Regions from separate parts of the Homo sapiens genome. Here region 2 is linked to region 1. Evidence: fine-mapped expression QTL. A gene starts in region 1. The other region holds a variant in brackets. All regions are shown on one strand. Distances are between the middles of the regions.

Evidence for each region.
Region 2: its variant is fine-mapped to the expression of COG3 in nasal epithelium (TOPMed, PIP 0.95).

Annotation. Positions count from the first base shown.
Region 1 is chr13:45,457,941-45,468,921 of GRCh38, reverse strand. COG3 (component of oligomeric golgi complex 3) reads right to left here and starts at 3,983. Exons shown (of 23, transcript NM_031431.4): 1 at 3,712-3,983. The coding sequence starts at 3,885.
Region 2 is chr13:44,720,008-44,731,044 of GRCh38, reverse strand. LOC105370185 (a long non-coding RNA gene) reads left to right here and starts at 6,868. Exons shown (of 3, transcript XR_941929.4): 1 at 6,868-6,942. The variant A/G (reference allele first, on the strand shown) is at 4,993.

The sequences.
Region 1 (10,981 bases):
AAAAAGGGGTGTGGTGGTATCACACACTTTCCTGTTCTGACCTCTCATTCACTTCTCAGGAGGAGGTGACTGAATGCCTGCTGCTTACCAGCACTGTCCTGGCTTCCAGATGGAGCAGACAGACACCACTAGAGAGAGAACACAGTTCTAGATTGCTAATGGGCCAGTGCTGCAGAGCTACTGTATAGTTTATGCAAATGGAGACACTAACATTAAATAGTAAGTACAATAAATTCTCAAGCTTTGCCTGACCAGCTGAGCAGGTCCCTGAAATAACAAGTAACATACCTTTCTCTCCCAAGCTTTACTTCTTGCAGAGTTCTGGGTTGGAGAAAACCACTTTTATAATCAATCTGATCAATTAATTCCCTAAATGAAACCTGATGTTTTGTTCTCTGCTTGGAGCAAATTACTGAAGAGGTATAGGTGGAGTCTCAGAACCTTCCTCAAGGCACTTAACCTCTCCTTTTCTTACCTTTGGTCTGAATGACACCTATACCAGCTCAGCATCACAGGATTCTAATCTATTCTTTTAAGATGTTAATAATTTGAAAGAAAGCACAAGAATAATAGCAAGTAACTTGCCACGTGCACCTTGCATACGTGATTTCACATAATTCTCACAATTCCCTATGAGATAAGTACTCATCATGAGTTAAGTCCCCATTTTATAAAGAAGAAAATTAAGGCTTAGAAAAGATAAACATCACATCTAAGGTCACACAGCCTACAAGAAAACAACAGCTGTAACAGTAAATTATAGGTAAATGTCGGGGTAAATTATTTTAGCACTTTATCAAGAATTACTAAATTCAACAGAAAGAAATAGGCCCCTCACTACTAAGTTTGCCCTGGCTACAAAAGTCTACCTAATATTCTATTGTAAATTATTTTCTCTAATGCCAAAAAAGGCATAATTCCTTTTTAAGATAAGACTAGTTCTCTTTCATAAAAGAGAAAGCTATTTTCTAAAGAAGTTAACATCTTTATGATATGTACTTAAGAGTTAGTTGGCCTCTTGCTATTCTACTAGCCTGCTCAGTTCCAGTTGTTCAGGAAGTAATTTATCTCGTGAAAATTGTGAAACACTACAGAAAATCCTTGAGTTATACTGATTGGACAAAATGAAAATTGTGGCACTCTCTTTTGCTGCCAATGTTAAAAGAGTAGTATAGGGCTAAAAAAATTAATTCCAAAGTCTTCCCAACAGACATATAAACACTTCAGAAAAGGAAAATGAGGGCTGTAAAGCTGAAGAGCAATGAGAACTGCCTTCTCAAAGATTCCAGGATGTGTGCATAACCAGCTCGGCTACTGCATTCTTTTTGAGACAGAATCTTGCCTGTCACCCACCCAGGCTGGAGCGCAGTGGTGCAATCTCGGCTCAGGGCAATCTCTGCCTTCTGGGTTCAAGTGATTCTCATGCCTCAGCCTCCCAAGTACCTGGGATTACAGGCATGCACCACCACACCCAGCTAATTTTTATATTTTTAGTAGAGATGGTGTTTCGCCATGTTGGCCAGGCTGGTCTTGAACTCCTGACCTCAAGTGATTCTCCCGCCTTAGCCTCCCAAAGTGCTGAAATTACAGGCGTGGGCCACCGCACCTGGCCTCAGCTATTGCATTCTCACAGGAATCCAATACCAAGCTGCACGTACCAGAAGACCCTCACTGAATTCTTGAACTCATTAAGCTCATCCTCTACCCATGACCTTATGCTGTTCTTTCTTCCAGCTGCAATGTTATTTCTTTAGTCTTTATGAGGCTAGCTTCAGGTAGTCCATCATCAGTTCTCACCTCAGGCTGTCACTTCCTTGGAAAGGTCTTCCCTCTTTCTCTAAAAGGGCACACCTCATCCTTTTCTGTCACACCATCCTATCTGATTTTCCTTATATTATGGACCACCATCTGAACATACCTTCTTTGTTCTTTTTTTCCATGTTCATGATCCCCACAATTATGTCAGCTCTATGAGGCTAAGGATCTCATCTTTCCTATTTATCTTTCTATCTTCAATACCTAACTCAGAGTAGGGACATAACATATGTTAAAGACTGCATGTGGCTAATGATAAATATGGAAGAATGGGGTGAAAATGAAAGATTCCATTTAGTTCATTCCAAACGTTCTCCTTCATGCTCAATGAGAATAAGAAATAATAGTTTATGACCCATGACAATGAAAACAAATTTTTTTGTAGAATATGTATCTCCCCCATCACACCCTCAGTGCTATTAAGTCCAAGCATCCTGCTGCAGTAGGAGCCAAATCAATTATAAACAGACTGGAAAATTTATAGAGCAAACAACTTTTATTATCCAGGGTATAAAAGAGTTTGATAGCTGAGCCAAAGAAATTTCCACCTGCGCCTTCATTGATTTCAGATCCACTTCCGGTACCATATCCTAGAGGTGGAAAAAGAAACCCAAGAAAGAACGCCTATTTGATGGCTGAGCATACAACAGTGAATGTGAAGAGAACGTTTAAATCAAATCTCTAAAGTTGGAGGACAGAAAAAGTTGAAGACTCTAAACTCAATCTGCATTTGGACACAATTCCAAATCGTATAAAAAGAATGCTTCAGGCCAGGCACGGTGGCTCACGACTGTAATCCCAGCATTTTCGGAGGCCGAGGCGGGCAGATCACTTGAGGTCAGGAGTTCGAGAACAGCCTGGACAACAGGGCGAAACCCCATCTCTACTAAAAATACAAAAAATTAGCCGGGTGTAGTGGCAGGCACCTGTGATCCCAGCTACTCGGGAGGCTGAGACAGGAGAATCGCTTGAACCCGGGAGGTGGAGGTTGCAGTGAGCCGAGGTCACGCCACTGCACTCCAGCCTGGGCGACAGAGCGAGAGAAAAGAATGCTTCCAACATCAAAAGTAACCATCACCACTGCTTATATAAAATAATCCTCCTAAACCTGGCCCTCAAAACTGGAAAACGTTTGTCAAACATCTGACAATTCATGTTACTTCCTGCTATTACAACTAATTGAATTGAATCACACAAGAAGCAGTAGTGCATAATATCCTAATGGTAAGTGGATTAAACACATTGACTCTAACACCGAAAACCAGCACTGCTTAATAATGTACTGAGCCAACTTTCAAATAAAATTCATTTTTATTGCTTTGCAATAGGTGAAATAAATCTGATCTCCCATAACTTGCACTTGATTGAGAGCTCATAGTTCAATGTGCGATAAATGAAACTCACTCAGGACCAAGTTTTGGTCTCCCCAAGACCCCCATGGACAAAGCAACCTAGGTGAATCATTAAGGCGGTAAACGAGCACGCGCTGGAGACTGTCCTGCAGCACAGCACCTCGGGTTGACTGCCTCTCCTTCTGGGAGAGAGTGGGCAGCAGGATTACGCCTCGGCTGACAGGACGCCTCGTCTGGGGCAAAACGTTCGGTGCAAGGCTCCGGGCCAACCGTCCCATGCTGCTGGGGGAGGACTGGGTTCCGGCGAGCACCAGCTGCAGGACACCCCCACAGCCGTCCCCAGGCAGAATTAGAGTCGGGGTCGCAGGCAGAGCGAAGCCTGACAGCCTGGGAGATGAGGCCCCTCCCACCGGATCCGCCACCATGGCCAGGGAGGAGTGGAGAGATATCCTGGGCAGAGGCTAGTGAGGCCGGGGTCCTGCCGGGGCGCCCGAGGAGAATCCCAGCCCCATCGCCCCGGCCCGGTTCCTGCCCATCACCTCACCTCAGCTGGCACCGGCAAGTTCTCTGCCGCCGCCTTCAGCTCCAATACCGAGTCCGTCTGCCTGTCGGTCAGCGGCGCCGTCGTGTCCGGTCTCCGATCCCAGAGAGCCAGCTTTTCCCTAGCGTCCCGCTCCGCCGCCGCCTCAGGCAGCAGCAACAGCGCCGCCTCCGCCATCGCCGCCGCCCTCGCGGCCTTCAGCAGCAGCGAGATGGAGGGGACCCCGACAGAGAGACCTGGGCCACTTCCGGGAGAACCGGAGCTTCCAACACTGCACCGGCGGCGGGGCGGGACGGAATGCCCTGACCCCGGAAACGGTTCCGCAGTGTGGGGGGCGGGACCGAGGCCAGTACCGACGTGGCTTTAAATGGGTACGACTATTTCCGGTTGAAACGTAGAAGGTGGAGAAGACAGGACCCAATGGAAATAGAAATGCCCCTACCGGAAGTCTTTTCCTCAACATCAATAACTTTATTGTTACGTGTTGTACAGATTATTGACAACTGCGCTAAATCACCCTGCCGGCAGGAGACTTGGATCTACACCTCTCTGCTTACAGCTGGGTAGTCTGGGTAGAATGTGTGGAGTGTATGATTTCCATGTTGGCATGTTGACAATTTATGCCTCTTGGATCAAAACCAAAAGCATAAACTTTTCCAACATCCAGTAATTCCCCTACTAGAAAACTAATTTACGGAAACACATAAAAAATTCAAAGATGTGTGTATCTCAGACATCATTAATGGTATCAAATAACTGGAGACAACCTAAATGTCCAACATTGAAGAACTGGATCAAGAATTTGTGGCACAGACCAGGCGCGGGGGCTCAGGCCTGTAATCTCAGCACTTTGGGAGACCGAGGTGGGCGTATCACCTGAGGTCAGGAGTTTGAGACCAGACTGGCCAACATGGTTGAACCCCGTCTCTACTAAAAGCACAAAAATTAGCCAGGCGTGGTGGCACATGCCAGTAATCAGCCTGAGAGGCTGAGGCAGGAGAATCTCCTGAACCTGGAAGGTGGACGTTGCAGTGAGCAGAGATCTTGCCACTGCATTCCGGCCTGGGCATCAAGTGAGACTGTCTCAAAATGTATAATAATAATAATTTGTGGTACAGACATGTAATTCTACTCTACCATTTAAATCATATTGTAGATTTGAGCAACAAAATAAATAATGATAGTATTGGATCATAATTTACAGAATAAAATAAATACCCATGAGTCCATACTGCTATAAATAAACGATTGAATAAATAAATGGTGGAGAACAGACAATCTTCTACAAGTTATGGAGGCCTCTTCCTGCTCCTCCCTGGAGTCAAGGCAGGTGGAAACAGCTTCGTAGCAATTTTGACCATTGTCTGGGTAAAGTCTGAAGGCTTTATTCAGGCTTTATAGCACAAATCAGTGCCTGGCTATGTTCCCAAATGAAGGCTCTGATCTTTTAAGAGCAGAATTTGAGACCGGGCGCAGTGGCTCACACCTGTAATCCCAGCACTCTGGGAAGCCGAGGTGGGCGGATTACCTGAGGTCGGGAGTTCGAGACCAGCCTGATCAACATGGAGAAATCCCGTCTCTACTAAAAATACAAAAAAACTTAGCTGCGCGTGGAGGTGCATGCCTGTAATCCCAGCTACTCGGGAGGCTGAGGCAGGAGAATCGCTTGAACCCAGGAGGCGGAGGTTGCTGTGAGCCAACGTTGCACCATTGCACTCCAGCCTGGGCAACAAGAGCTAAACTCTGTCTCAAAAAAAAAAAGAATAGAATTTGAAGTTGGAAGAGAATTTTAAAATCATATAATCAAGCCCTTTCTGTCTACAGAGGAGCAAACTACAACCCGTAGAGGTGAAGCAAGCAGCCTAACATCCTGCAATCAGGTGGTTAACATCAGCGTCACCACTGGAACTTAGATATCCTGACTGTGTCTGACACCCTTTATATACCACAGCTTCTCCAAGTTGCCTGCTGTACAAAGCCCTTAAAAAATCTGCAGATCCCCAATGTTGATGTAAATAATTGTATTATATTGCTTAAGTATGAACAAAAATAAGACTTGACATAAGCTTTGGATGTTTATACCAAAATAGACATGCAAGTTACATGCCAACAGAAATATAACTAACATATAACGGTATATAACCAATAACATTCACATTAACAACTCAAGTGAGATGTGGGATATTATTTTGCTGGAAAACGAAATTGCTTCTGGCAACACGAAGACAGTCCTGACTACTGCTATACAGCTGCTTGGGAGTTCATCACACTTCTGTTATACCAGCAGCATGCTGTGTTCCCCACCATTTGAACTACTGGGAACACTTGACTCAGGGTAAATCCCTAATACCATTTTTCCTTTATCTGGCTTGTATATATCATTTGCATATTAAAACAACCCTGCTGTTTTTAGTAGCTTTATTAAAAATATTCTATATGCACAAACAAGGAGGGTGGAAGCTGAAATCATGTGGTAATCCTAAACTATAAAACTGTCATGTTGGTGATCCAGAATATGCATGAATATAGTTTTAAGAGTTGAAATGAGGCTGGGTGTGGTTGCTCACGCCTGTAATCCCAGCACTTTGGAAGGCTGAGGCGGGCGGATCATGGGGTCAGGAGATCGAGACCATCCTGGCTAACATGGTAAAACCCAGTCTCTACTAAAAATACCAAAAATTAGCCGGGCGTGGTGGCAGGCACCTGTAGTCCCAGCTACTCGGGAGGCTGAGGAAGGAGAATGGCATGAACCCGGGAGGCGGATCTTGCAGTGAGCTGAGATTGTGCCACTATACTCCAGGCTGGGCAACAGAGCGAGACTCTGTCTCAAAAAAAAAAAAAAGAGTTGAAATGAAAACAAATATTTTAAAAATGTAATCACAAGCTCTAGTTTGAGAAAGACTGCACCACATCCTACTGTCTACTGCCCTAATAAAGACATAGACCATGGTTAAACTTTCCTATTACCTACTACAAGTGTCTGCAATTCCACATTTCTTTGCTTCCTAGGGTTTTTCACCCAGTAATATCTTAGAATAGGCCCCTGGAAATGGAAAAATGCCTAAGGGACAAGGGGCAGAGGTGCTCTAGATTGAGGAAGGGGAGAGATAGGGAAGGAGACGGCGGTAAGGATCCAAAGACCTCCTTATAGTGAGGGCTTCATAGCCTCGCCATGGTCAGCCCTCCTCAATGACTCAAACCTGGACACTGCAAAGGACCCCCGCTAATAATGTGGCATTGCAAGAATAGCTCATGTGTTGATTTCCAAAGCACCTCTCATCTGCTGCTCACTTTCACTCAGGTAGGTAGTTGGTGGATATTATTTTTTGCCCTATTTAATGAATGATAAAAACAAACTTCAGGGAGGTTTGTGAGCTGCTCAGGATAACAGTTAGTAAAGGGCAGACCTGTCATTGGAACCAGGACACTGGGCAGGACCTTCTCTTTTCCCTCTGTGCTAACACAAATGAAAGTGAGCAACATGAACCCATTCGTACATTTGAACCCATTCGTACTTTTTTGTCACAGGACATTTTAGCAAGCATGAGTTCCAAGGATGAGCATTACAGGCTGGCAGAACTGCTTCCCAGCATTCTATGGTACTTCAAGGTTGTACTAGTGCCAAAACACTAAACATGGCGTAAAAGAGGAAGAACGTTAGAACACACAGACTTCTCAGATCATTTTCCATTTTACTTCACTGCTTATAAAACAGCAAAGTTACAAAATGGAATAGTTCAAATCATTCTTATACACAGCTGCATGTGTACAATTGCCTCGTGAATTTTCAGAGCACGTTCTTGTGGAATTGATGGATTTCTTTATGTATACTCTCCAGCCTATTATCAGAAGAACCACTTCCCTTGCTATAGGTTTCTATAGCTTCATCAAGGGTCTGAAGATCTGTTTTCCTTTTCAAATTATTTCCTTTCTTACTCACTTTATCAATTTCTCATTTACACATCAGTGACTATAAATCACTGTAAACCTTGACAATTTATTTAAATAGTAGCTAAGGCTTTATTTCATAATAACAGAAGAATTAGACAAATAGTACCACAGCTTAGAATTCAGAATCAATATTTAGAATCAAGGCATGTTTTGAAGAAAGACATAATTACCTTCCAAAATTTCAACCTCAAAAAGCTATGAACTGCCTCTTTGCTAATAATAAAATTAAAACACATGCAATAAAGTCATGTGTAAATGTTGGTAAAAACATTTTTGGAAATATCTATCACTAGCCTTGAAATGCTCACTTTTTTTTTACTTCCTTTTCTAGGGCTTTTTCATAAATTGATAATCTCTTAATTTTTTTTAAAAAAGCTTTATCTACAAAGATGTTCACAGCAGGATATTAAAAAACATTTAGAAACAATTTAAGTATAGAATTATGGTAAATTTGCTTGATGGCTTACTAGACAGTCATTTTAATTACATTTAAATTTTACTTGTATTTTGTTTTTCAAATGTTTTAATGAGTATGTGTTATTTATAATGATACGCATATATCATAATTATGCCTATATGTTCGTTGTGTGGGTGCATGTGTGTGTGTGCTTATTGTACAGCATTAGAGATCTAGTAACATTATAGATTACCCATTCATTCATTCACTCATCCTCTTATCAAACATTAATTGTGTGTTGGGTTCTGTATTAGTCCATTTTCATATTGCTGATAAAGACATACCTGAGAGCCAGGCACAGTGCTTATGCCTGTAATCCCAGCACTTTGGGAGGCCAAGGCAGGTGGATCATTTGAGGTCAGGAGTTCAAGACCAGCCTGGCCAAGATGGTGAAACCCCATCTCCACTAAAAATGTAAAAATAAGCCAGGTGGTAGTGGCACACACCTGTAATCCCAGCTACTCGGGAGGCTGAGGCGGGAGAATCACTTGAGCCTGGGAGGTGGAGGTTGTGGTGAGCCAAGATGGCGCCACTGCACTCCAGTCTGGGTGACAGAGTGAGACCTTGAATCAAAAAAAAAAAAAAAAAAAAAAAAAAAGACATACCCGAGACTGGGCAATTTACAAAAGAAAGAGGTTTATTAGACTTATGGTTCCACCTGGCTGGGGAGGCCTCATAATCATGGCATAAGGCAAGGAGGAGCAAGTCACATCTTACATGGATGGCAGCAGGCAAAGAGAGAGCTTGTGCAGAGAAACTCCCGTTTTTTAAAACCATCAAATCTCATGAGACCCAATCACTATCATAAGAACAGCATGAGAAAGACCCACCCCCATGATTCAATTACCCCCCACCAGGTTCCTCCATAACATGTGGGAATTGTGGAAGTTGCAATTCAAGATGAGATTTGGATGGGGACACAGCCAAACCATATTACATTGTGTGCTGATCTGAGTATTCAATACTAAATCAGAACATTTCCTGTATTCAAGGAGCTTACAGTCTGGTAAAGTAGACAGACAAACACTGGCGAGTGCAATACAATATAAAATGTAGTATCTGTGAATAAGCATAAGATGATTACAGGAAGCAAGGAAGAAAAGCATCTAATCCATACTTGGATGATGAGGGTAGGTTTTCTGGAGAGACCTTTAACAGTGCTTGGCATACAGTAGATACTCAATAAATATATTTTGAATGAATTGGGATCTGAATAGCAATAAGACAGAGAAGGAGAAACTTTTTCAAGTGAGAGGGAACAGTATGTGCTAAGGCCTAGAAGCAAGACCACAGAACACCTGTAGGAAGTAAAAAATTTGACAATATGATTAGAATTTGAAGTTGGAGGTAGAAAGATGACAAGAAATGATGTCAAAGCGGTGCATAGGGACAAGACTGTGAAAGCCTGGGTGCCATGATAAGAAGTTTGGCCTCTGTGCTGAGGAGATCGGGCAGTAAGGACATTGCCCATTGGCCATTTAGAAAAGTCCTGGAGAGTGTGGCACATGCATTGACCAGAAGCCAATCCAGAAGTGGGAACAGAGAGTATAGAGGCTGTTTCAGTCATCTGGACAGCCTGAATTAGGAGTGTTGGTGGACATGGAGAGAGGAGAGTGAAAGGAGGAGATATCAAAAAGATAAAGCCCACCGGGATTGAGGTGTAACTGAATGGACACGAAGGAGTCAGGATGTCTGGTTTGGACACATGGGTGTGTCCTTCACTGAGAGGGGAGCACAGAAGAAGATAGCTTGGCAGAGGGTGACGAGTCCAATGTTTGACATGAAGCATGCTGAGAGAATGTTTTCCACATACACACAGCTCCTTGTCTATTCTAATGAGCCAGACTTGAGTATCCACCACCTGAATGGAGGATTGTCACGGCAGACCCAACAAACAACCGTGTCACATGGACAGCTTTTGAGCTTTAAAAGCAGCCACTCAGTTGTAAAACAGGTATTGGAAAAATACACCTTCTATTTTTGTCCTACCTTAAGAAACTACGTGTTTTAGAGAAAAGAGGGAGTCTACAGAGGGGAGCAGGATGGTATCTTGCAGCAAGTGTTTTTGAGAAGGGGTTCTACCATCTGGGTGGTGGGGATGAGGGTGGTTCATGAATGTTCTGAGATCAGACAAAATATATCTCTTGCTTCCTAAGTATGGTGGTAGAGAATGAAAAAAGCCTAGAGTACTCCCAAGTCCTACTAGAGTAGCGCATGAACAATGGAGTAGGCACACGTGAGAAATTCTGTAGGCAGCTTCACAAAGACCCTTCACACAGACTCAAACATAGTGCAGGGAACGACAGATGCTACTGTATCTCCAAGGGTGGTAGAAGAGACCATGGAGCTAGAGTTGGGCCTGGAGAAGCCTGGAGTCCAGCAATTTGGGTACCATTACAAATGGCTAGATATCCCTCAGTTCTCAGCTTTAATGTCTTTCTCAGGGGCATCTACTCTGCAGTCTGGGTGAGGTCCAGCCTCCCATCATACACTGCTGGGGCCCTGTACTCCCCCTTGTCAAAGGATAATTTTCAGAGCATGGCTCTCATATACATGTGAAATGAAGGAAGCCCTGCATGGTGACACATGCCTGCAATCCCAGGTACTGGGGACGCTAAGACAAGAGGATTGCTTGATGCCAAGGAGTTCAAGACCAGCCTCGGCAACACAGCAAGACTCCATCACTAAAAATATTTTTTTTAAAAAAAGAAAGAAATCAAGAAGCAAACCAAACAAGGGAAGAAGACTATCAAAAATAGCCAGGCAGATTATAAAATAATCATATAAAACTACACAGTTGACCCTCAAACAACATAAGTTTCAACTGTGCATTTCCACTAATACACGGCTTCTTTTCAACCAGAA
Region 2 (11,037 bases), 740 kb after region 1:
ATGTGACTCTCTGGTAGTTGCTGTTGGTTTCATTTTGGAGAAACAGTGCCAGCTACCACAATCCAATGTGGAGAGGAAGAGGCTCCTTACTCAGAGTTTTAAGGACAGTTAGAAAATAGAGGCAGAAGGGCAAGCTCCCATAGGAAGGGAGAGTCACCACATGCTGAGAGATGCAATCTCATTTGCTTTCTGCTTGGAGTCTCATTTTCCACATTGGTAAAATGGGAATAATATCTACTTTGCAGAAAGGAGGAGTCATCAATGAAAGCACCAGCCACATAGTGGTCACCCATGAAAAAGCTCACTGTCATTGTTCTCTCATAATATTAATTTTTTTTGTTTTACTATTTTTTTTTTTTTGAGACGGAGTTTTGCTCTGTTGCCCAGGCTGGAGTGCAATGGTGCAATCTTGGCTCACTGCAACCTCTGCCTCCCAGGTTCAAGCGATTCTCCTGTCTCAGCCTTCCGAGTAGCTGGGATTACAGGCATGCACCACCATACCCGGCTAATTTTTGTATTTTTAGTAGAGACAGGGGTTTCACCGTGTTGGTCAGGCTGGTCTCGAACTCCTGACCTCGGATGATGCGCCCACCTCGGTCTCCCAAAGTGCTGGAATTACAGGCGTGAGCCACCGCTCCCAGCCTGTTTTACTTTAAAAACATATTTTACCATGATTTGTTTGTCCATGATGTGGTTCCTGCCAAACCCGTCGTAGGAACCAGGAAATGGAGTGGATGCTGCAAAGTACATTTTCCTCATTGTGCGCTGACACATCACTAAAACACCGCACTCTTTTAGACATCCTGGAGTGTATTACAAAAGGAAGGGTGATTTCTTGTTTTAGTTTCGTTGAGACCACCCCCTCAGAAGCACATCAGTAGCAGAGCTGAGACTTGCCTCTTGATCCGGGAGACCCTTGGCATCGCTGCGTGCTCGCTAAATTGTCGTCAGCTCTCACCTAATTGCCTCAATGGGAGACTCTTCTGGAAGGAGTCCAAGGGGTATCTCATCAGCGTTCTGCACCTCTGCCAAAGGACAATTGGGAGAAAGAGGCCAAAGCCCACAAGGGGAGATGAAGGCAGCAACTCTTTTTCCTGACTAATCTATCAGCACTTCGATGCTGGCGGGGGGCTCCCCTCCCAACCACCCCCTGCACACCTGCCTGCTGCTGCTCAAGGCAGAATCGATAAGCTGGAAGAACACAGTGAAAGTTCCCCAAGAACTTGAGGAACAGAAACACCTTGGGGACACCTCGAGTCCCCAAGGATTTGAGGAACAGAACAGAAATGTCGACCTGCCACTCTGCCTCTGCAACTGCAGTTTGGGGCCGTGGAGGTTCATGCCCCCCAGGCACAGAAAGGGCGATTTGGGTCTGTTTTCGGGTCAGCATGAAGTGCCTCCGCCCACTTCCTCACCCCCACTGAGGTGCATTTGGCAGTACCTGGAAGTGACAAGAGTCCATAGGTGAGGGCTGTCCAGCCTTGGCCCACAGTGCTCCTGGCTTGGATTTAGCCAGGTCCTCACCGCCAGAGGCTCAGCTCGGCTTGTTCTCACTGCCTGCCTCTTCTCAGACGGAGGTAGTAGCAATGTTTGGGGAGATGGTGCTCCACTGTAAATCTCCGATAGTCCGGACATGCGCCTCACCAGATTCCTCATACCTTGCCCACAGCTTGGTGTTTCATGTTAAAGGTCTACCTAAATCCACTGACAACGGAAACCCAATTCAAACGTATTTAAGCAAAAACGGGTAATTATAGGCTCTTGGGAAATCTAAGGATGAATTTTGGGAGCTGGATCCAGGAGCCCAAATCATGTTATTATAATAGTTGTGGTGTTATGATATATATTTGTTTTCCTCCACAGTTCCTGGTTCATTGCTTCCATAGTCCCCTTTACAGTCTTTTGTTATAATCTTGAATGTATTAGGCCTCAGGGGCAGGCCCCAGGAAATCTCAACTTTCTCCTGTCCTCATTTCACCTACCCCAAAGCAAGACTAATCTTTCCCCACCTTTCTGATGGTGGGGCTTAGGACCCTTCCCAGACAAAACATTGCAGGAAGAATGTTGACATCACTCAGCTTCCACAAAAACTCAAGACGGGCTGGGCACAGTGGTTCATGCCTATAATCCCAGCACTTTTGGAGAGTGAGGAGGGAGGATCTCTTGAATCCAGGAGATAAGCCTGCAGCAAGCCGTGATTGCACCTCTGCACTCTAGCCTGGGTGACCACAGAGCAAGACCCTGTCTCAAAACAACAAAACACCAACCAAACAAGAGGACTGGGTTCAGGGAGCTTCTGGATAGCTGAACATGTGAGGTTCCTGGAGGGTGGTGCACCCAGGAAGGGCATGGAATCTCCATGCCCCTTTCCGCATACCTCACCCTATCTGTATCCTTTGTAATATCCTTTATAAGAAACCAGTAACCAGCCGGGCATGGTGGCTCACACCTGTAATCCTAGCACTTTGGGAGGCCGAGGCAGGTGAATCACCTGAGGTTGGGAGTTTGAGACCAGCTTGACAAACATGGAGAAACTCTGTCTCTACTAAAAATACAAAATTAGCTGGGCATGGTGGCACATGCCTGTAATCCCAACTACTCGGGAGGCTGAGGCGGAGGCTGAGGTGAGCCGAGATCATGCCATTGCACTCCAGCCTGGGCAACAAGAGCGAAACTCCGTCTCAAAAAAAAAAAGAAACTAGTAACCAAAAGTGTTTCCCTGAGTTCTGTGAGCCAGTCCAGCAAATTATTAGAAGGCAAAGAGGGAGTCGTGGGAACCCCAATTTGAAACTAGTTGTCAGGAGTTCCTGAGGCCCAGACTTGCAACTGGTGCCTGGGGGTATAGGGAGCAGTCTTGGGGACTAGGCCCCCAATTTGTGGGATGTGATATTATCTCCAGGTCGATAGTGTTGGAATTCAGTTGGAGAACACCTAGCTGGTGTCTGCTACTTGGTGTGTGGAGACAAAAAAAAACAATATTTAGTCACAGAAATCCTTTTCTGTGTTGATGTGTAATCGCCCAAGGGGTTCACCTATCCCACTGCCCAGATCAGTATAGGGGAGTTGCAATAGAGAAAGAGAAATTCACGCAAAGCCGGCTGTGCGGGAGACCGGGGTTTTATTATTACTTAAATCAGTGTCCCTGAGCACTGGGGGAGCAGAATTTTTAAGGATAACTTGGTGGGTGGGGGAAGCCAGTGAGCCAGGAGTGCCGATTGGTCAGAGATAAAATCATAGGGAGTCGAAGCTGTCTTCTTGCGCTGAGTCAGTTCCTGAGTGGGAGCCAAAAGATCAGATGAGCCAGTTTATTGATCTGGGTGGGGCCAGCTGATCCATCAAGTGCAGGGTCTGCAAAATACCTCAAGCACTGATCTTAGGAGGAGTTTAGGGAGGGTCAGAATCTTGTGGCCTCCAGCTGCATGACTCCTAAGCCATAATTTCTAATCTTATGGCTAATGTTAGTCCTACAAAGGCAATCTAGTCCCCAGGCAAGAAGGAGGTCTGCTTTGGGAAAGGGCTGTTACCATCTTTGTTTAAACTGTAAACTAAGATTCTCCCAAAGTTAGTTCAGCCTATGCCCAGGAATGAACAAGGACAGCTTGGAGGTTAGCAGAAAGATGGAGTCAGTTAAGTTAGATCTCTTTCACTGTCTCAGTCATAATTTTGCAAAGGCGGTTTCAGATGGTTGTTGTGGTGTGAGAACATATCAAAAACACAGTATTTTCCTACATAATAGTTTACCTTAAATTTGTAACCATCCAATGGGTCCTCCTTGCCCACTGCCTAGACAACTGATTTATCAAGACAGAACTGCAACAGAGAAAGTTTTTAATTCATGCAGAGCTGGCTGTACAGGAGATGGAAGTTTTATTATTACTCAAATCAGTCTCCCCGAGCATTAGGGGATCAGAGTTTTTAAGGGTAATTTGGTGGGTAGGGGGCCAGTGAGTTGGGAGTGCTGATTGGGCAGGTCAGAGATGAAACCATAGGGAGTAAAAGCTGCCTTCTTGTGCTGAGTCAGTTCCCGGGTGGGGGCCACAAGACTAGATGAGCCAGTTTATCAATCTGGGTGGTGCCAGCTGGTGCAGCGAGTGCAGGGCTTTACAATGGTGACGTTATCCCCAGGAGCAATTTGGGGAGGGTCAGAATTTTGTAGCCTCCAGCTCCATGACTCCCAAACCGTAATTTCTAATCTTGTAGCTAATTTGTTAGTCCTACAAGGGTAGTCTTGTCCCCATACAGGAGGGGGATTCGTTTCAGGAAAGGGCTGTTATCATTTCTGTTTCAAAGTTAAACTATAAACTAAGTTCCTCCCAAAGTTAGATCGGCCTGTGCCCAGGAATGAAGGAGGACAGCTTGGAGGTCAGAAGCAAGATGGGGTTGGTTAGGTCAGATCTCTTTCACTGTAATAATTTTCTCAGTTATAATTTTGCAATGGCGGTTTCATTGTGTTTCCACATTTCCTGTGTTGCCTTCATTCTTTCCCTTCTAACTCAGTAGCAAATATGGCCACCAAGATTCCAGTGTTACATTATCTTTACAGCTGGCAAACAAAACATAGAGGCTGTTTTTTAATCATTCCAGAAAAATCCTGGGGAGAGCTCTGCCCATCCTTGAAACAATCTCTCTGATTGCCCAACCTAAACTGTGTGTCCAGTTTTTAAGTCAAAGCACGTGTTGAATCATGCCTGAACCATATGGTGTAGGAAAGGGAGAAGTGTTTGTTATTCCCTAAGGAGATTGTGAGCAGACAAAAACCATCTACTGACAATCTGGTAGAGATGTCCATGTTTATTCTTTTTTTTTTTCTTTGAAACGGAGTCTCACCCTGTCGCCCAGGCTGGAGTGCGATGGCACAATCTCAGCTCACTGTAACCTCCACCTCCCAGGTTCCAGGGATTCTCCTGCCTCAGCCTCTCGAGTAGCTGTAATTACAGGCATGTGCCACCACACCCAGCTAATTTTTTTGTATTTTAGTAGAAATGGGGTTTC[A/G]CCATGTTGGCCAGGCTGGTCTCGAACTCCTGACCTTGTGATCTACTCGCCTCGGCCTCCCAAAGTGCTGGGATTACAGGCGTGAGCCACCACACCTGGCTATTCTTACTATGACTTGTACAATATGTAAACTTAGCTTTTGGCTGGGCGCGGTGGCTCACCCTGTAATCCCAACACTGCGGGAGGTCGAGGTGGGAGGATCACTTGAGTTCAGAAGTTCAGGACCAGCTTGGCCAACACAGGAAAACCTCATCTCTACTAAAAATACAAAAATTAGCTTGCAATGGTGTGCACCTGTAATCCCAGCTGCTCGGGAGGCTGAGGCAGGAAAATCGCTTGAACCTGGGAGGCAGAAGTTGCAGTGAGCCGAGATCCTGCCACTGCACTCCAGCCTGGGCGACAGAGGGAGACTCTGTCTTTAAAAAAAAAAAAAAAAAAAGCCGGGCCCGGTGGCTCACGCCTGTAATCCCAGCACTTTGGGAGGCCGAGGCGGGCGGATCACGAGGTCAGGAGATTGAGACCATCCTGGCTAACACGGTGAAACCCCGACTCACTAAAAATACAAAAAATTAGCCGGGCACGGTGGCGGGTGCCTGTAGTCCCAGCTACTCGGGAGGTTGAGGCAGGAGAATGGCGTGAACCCGGGAGGCGGAGCTTACAGTCAGCCGAGATCGCGCCACTGCACGCCAGCCTGGGCGACAGAGCAAGACTCCGTCTCAAAAAAAAAAAAAAAAAAAAAAGAGAGAGAGGGGTACAAGGAGGAAAACAAAGAGGAACCTAAAGTGTCCAGAGGTGAATGGAATAGCCACATTTCATTGGTGGTGAAAAGCAGGGTGATGAACAAGTGAAAATGGTTTTGAAGGTATTGAAATGCTATTCAAATCTGAAAACAAGCCTGCTCATGCCCATCCACCTGAGTTTTCCTTAGCTTGGCCTGGTCATCAACCCCACATTCTGTCTACCACAGGGCAACATGAGAGAAAAGACTCATTTGATTCTAGTGTTCTGGTTCAAGGGCCTTTCACCTATCTCACGGTCTCAAGTTGTGACTGTCTCAACCTGTGTGAGGTCCAGACTCACCAAGCCAAAGTGCCTTCATTTTGCAAATCCATTTTTCCAGAAAATATTTCTTCCTTTTACAGATGCAAGTCCTCAATAGTGCAAGTGAATTTCTAATTACTTCAAGCTGATAGAGCCAAGTCACAAATTGCTTGTGGGATATATTGAAAAATGATGAAACTTGAAATGATTACCCGAAAGCATAAAGTCTGTAAAAAATTGAGGAATACAGACTTGGGATAAAGATCCTACAAATGTAGTTCATTAACTTGATATTAAATATAAACTAATGGTAGGGAAGTGAAAACCCTATTAAAATGTCTATGAAAAAATTAGAGATACAACTTCAGAAGGTGGGAGAGTGTTCATGGATTTGGGTTATTGGGCAGAAGCCAAAATCAACCTTCCCAAGAGGTTAGTCTTTTCTTCTCTTTTAAAGACCAGATAAGAGGTAGAGCCTCCACTAGAAAAATGCAACTATGAGAAAACAGGGTCCCTTCTTATTTTATCTTGGACACCCTAAAAGCCAGAGGAGGTGGTAGAAAGCACTGTGACAGTAGCTCCAAATTTCCTGCCCTCAATCACTCAAGGTATACTCAGAAAGTGAACAATTATGAAGTCCAGTGTCAGATGACATTCTAGAATCTGATGAAACACCAAAAAGAAGATTTAGTTCCTACCTTCAAGCTTCTTATGGTGAACGGGTTAAGCCTTTCAGGTCATTGGAGTTTGACTATCTTGTAAAAAGAAAAAGAGCATAATTTTGAAATAGGATGTGTCTATGTGCGAAGCTTCCAGAAGGGATTTTGGAGAGTCGGGGAACTGCCTGAATGTTACTGAAGGCCTGAAGTCAAGGAGAGGGCTCCAGTATGTGAAGTAGAAATAAAAAAGGTGAGCACTCAAGAGAATGCTTGCCTTCTTACGACTTTTATTAGGGCTCTTTTTTATATATAATTTTCAACAACTATAGTCAGTATCAGATAATCACGAGTTATGGGAATCTAAACATGAAAACACTGATCATCACATAAAGTATATGTGAATGAATCAGGTAGACCCAAACTTGGGAAACCAAGGGTTTGACTCTCTCTTGCTTTAGAGATCCAGCAGGTGCCAGGAAACAAAATAGGAAAAGAAGCCTGCTGCTAATGTGACCAAAGTGAAGTTCCAGCATGATTAATTTTTTTTTTTTTTTTGAGATGGAGTCTTGCTCTTGTTGCCCAGGCTGGAGTGCAATGGTGCAATCTCAGCTCACCTCAACCTCCACCCTTGGGTTCAAGCCATTCTCCTGCCTCAGCCTCCCAATTAGCTGGGAATACAGGCATGTACCACCACACCTGGCTAGTTTTGTATTTTTAGTAGAGATGGGTTTCTCCATGTTGGCCAGGCTGGTCTTGAACTCCCGACCTCAGGTGATCTGCCCACCTTGGACTTCCAAAGTGCTGGGATTACAGGTGTGAGCCACCATGCTCGGCCTCTAGCATGATTAATTTTTATTTTACCATCAAACTTGGTAAGGAACTGTAGAATCACTAGGGAAAGTTATAGAAAATAAACAAACATTTTTCCAGCCACAAACATTCATTATAGGGGATCGGAAGACTTCTGCTTCTGGCCATGATAGAGTAATGGGGGATGGATTTACCCTCCTGTCTTAAAATACTAAAAAACTAGACAAAATATATGAAACAGTAGTTTTCAGATGTTAGACAACAGGCAGCACAGAAATATGATCCAAGAGGAAGGGAAAATAAAGAGGTGAACCCTATGATTGCCCCAGCTTGCTACCTGGAGGCAATTTCCAGATTGCAGTATAGGGAGGAAGAAATAGCACAGCAGTCTCATTGAGATGAGGAGCAAGAGATCCAGGCCAAGGGAGGTCAAAGTCACTAGAACGTATGGGTCTATGCACTAGAAAGGAGGGAGATGCAGGGGAAGACAGGGAGAAAAAGAGAGCACTCCAGAGATCTATAAAGGAGCCACTTTGAAGCTTTGGCTGATGGCTGATTCATGTATACACAAGAGGAAACTATCTAAGGGGAAACCATCACCCAAAAGCAGCAAGCTGAACAATTCCTGGGGCTTACACAGGGCTAGGAATAGTTTGTGTTCCCACCAGTCAGAGTAGAAAGACCTCCTAGAGTCCTCAGAGGGGGACTCTTCTTATGTAGTCCCACCTTACTAGTGGGACTAAATAAGCCCTAGACTAAAAGCCACTCTGAACTCACCATTAAAATGCTTGAAAAGGAAAGGATCCAATAGATTCCAAGTAACTTAATTTTGTACCAGCATAAAGCTCAACACTATTTAAAAGAAAATAACAAAATCCAGCAACCAACAATGTAGAATCACAATGCCAGGTATCCTGTCAAAAATTACCAGGCATACAAAAAAACAGGAAAACATTGCTTATAACCAAAAGAAAAAGTAATCAATAGAAACAGTCCCAGAAATTATGGAAATAATGAATTAGCAGACAAGAACATGAAAATATCTATTTTAAATACACTCCTATCTATAAGAAAGTAAATAAAAACATGAACATGGTGAAAAGATAAATTAATGATACTTTTTTTTTTTGAGACGGAGTTTCGCTCTTGTTGCCCAGGCTGGAGTGCAATGGCATGATCTTGGCTCACCGCAACCTCCGCCTCCCAGGTTCAAGCGATTCTTCTGCCTCAGCCTCCCTAGTAGCTGGGATTACAGGCATGTGCCACCCCAGGCCCAGCTAATTTTGTATTTTTAGTAGAGACAGGGTTTCTCCCTGTTTGTCAGGCTGGTCTTGAACTCCCGACCTCAGGTGATCCGCCTGCCTTGGCCTCCCAAAGTGCTGGGATTACAGGTGTGAGCCACCATGCCCAGCCAAATTGATGATACTTTTAAAAGACTCAGATAAAACACATAAAGATGAAAAATGCAGTATCTTAATTGAAAAATACTGCATGGGATTAATAGTTAATCAGATATTGCAGAAGAAAAGGTAAGTGAAGTTGAAGAAATAATGAAGCACAGAAAAAAGACTAAAAAAAATGAATAGAGCATTAGTGACTTGTGGACTTTACATATATAACCTAGATGAACACATGTGTATAATTAAAGTGCCAAGAAAATGATGTGAGGGGGGAGATAAAATATTTGAAAAAATAATAAATAAAAGTGTTCCAATTTTGAAGAAAACTATAAATTGAAGATTCAAGGGGCTCAACAAATGCCAAGCAGAATAAACATTAAGAAAATCATGCCAAGGCACACCATAGCCCAATTGTTGAAAACCAGTGTCAAAAAAATTTTTTAAAACAGCCAGTGAAAAGGGGACATCTTATTTACATAAGAACAACAGCCAAAACCAATGGCAGCAGATTTCTTGACAGCAACTACATAACCCAGAAGACAATGAGACAATATCTTTAAAGTAATGAAACAGAAGCTGTAAATCTAGGATTTTATACCCAGCAAAAAATGTTTCAAAAATAAAAGTGAACTGCTAGGCGCAGTGGCTCATGCCTGTAATCCCAGCACTTTGGGAGGTTGAGGTGAGTGAATCATAAGGTCAGAAGTTCAAGACAAACCTGGCCAAGATGGTGAAACCCTGTCTCTACTAAAAATACAAAAATTAGCTGGACGCAGTGGTGGGTGCCTGTAATCCCAGTTACTTGGGATGCTGAGGCAGGAGAATCCCTTGAACCTGGGAGGCAGAGATTGCAGTGAACCGAGATCATGCCACCGCACTCTAGCCTGGGCCACAGAGCAAGAGTCCATCTGAAAATAATAATAATAATAATAATAATAATAATAATAAAAGTTAAATTAAAACTTTTCAAACAAAAGCTGAAAGAACTCATCACTAGCCATCTGCACAACAAGAAAGAAAACAGAAGTTTTCAGGCAGGATACAGCACAAGAAAAGGATCTATACAAATGACTGAAGAGTGCCAGAAATGATAAATATATAAATGACTTCTTTAAGACATCATCAACTAATTAAAGTGAAAATAATCACAGTATATTGCAGGATTCATAACATATATTGAAGCAAAATGTATCACAATAGCATAAAGACAAGAAGGAAGAAATAGAAGTATACTTCTATTTAAATACTGCACTGTACTTAAAGTAGAAAAATATTTGAAGTTAAACTGTTATAAATTAAAGTGCAATTATGTACAAATACAAATAGACATTACAAAATATGTTACACAGATCAAATCCTGTTAAAACAAACTCCAAAGTCTTATTTCAATAATTTTATCTTTCTCAAATTTGTGTCTTTTATTCTGGCTTTAATTAGTTATAATGGCACTGTAATTTCAAAATTTAACCTGTCCCTATAGTTCAACATCTGCTCTTCTTTTATTAAATGTTGCCAAATAACAGCAGAGGATGTATTTTCAGCATCATGCTTGTCTCACCAAGCTAAATTTGGTACTGTGGAATTTGTTGGTGAGGACAAATGATATGAGAATTCCTATGCTTGAAGCAATGCTGGCTTTGGGCCATTTCTATTTAAATGATGGGTTTGGAACAAATTGTGTTTACAGACTGATTCTGCCACTTACAAACTGTACTATTTTCTATTTGGGGAAATATCTAAGGTCTGTGACGTGGAGGTCCTATATGTTGATATAGCAAAGAAAAGAATGGAGCACCTCCTTATTCATTTTGGAATGAGTAAGATTTTTGGAAACCACATTGGAAAATTTGCTTCCTTAATAAAGTGCCATTCTTGTCAGATGAGTAGAAAAGAATACTGACCTCATTTATTTTTCCATCAATGCATCTCTCTATTCAGGGCTAAAAGTGGGGCATATTTGGAATTGTTAGCTTCAAACAAGCTCTGTAACTTAGGGGGTAAATAATTTCATGGTGGTATAACATGCCAAGTGGTAGTGAATAGCTTAGAGAAGTAAGGCATATAGTTAATGAGTACCTCTACATAGAGGCCCAGGCCTGGCTTGCGGTAAAAACTGGCTGCTTTGCAGTAAGAAA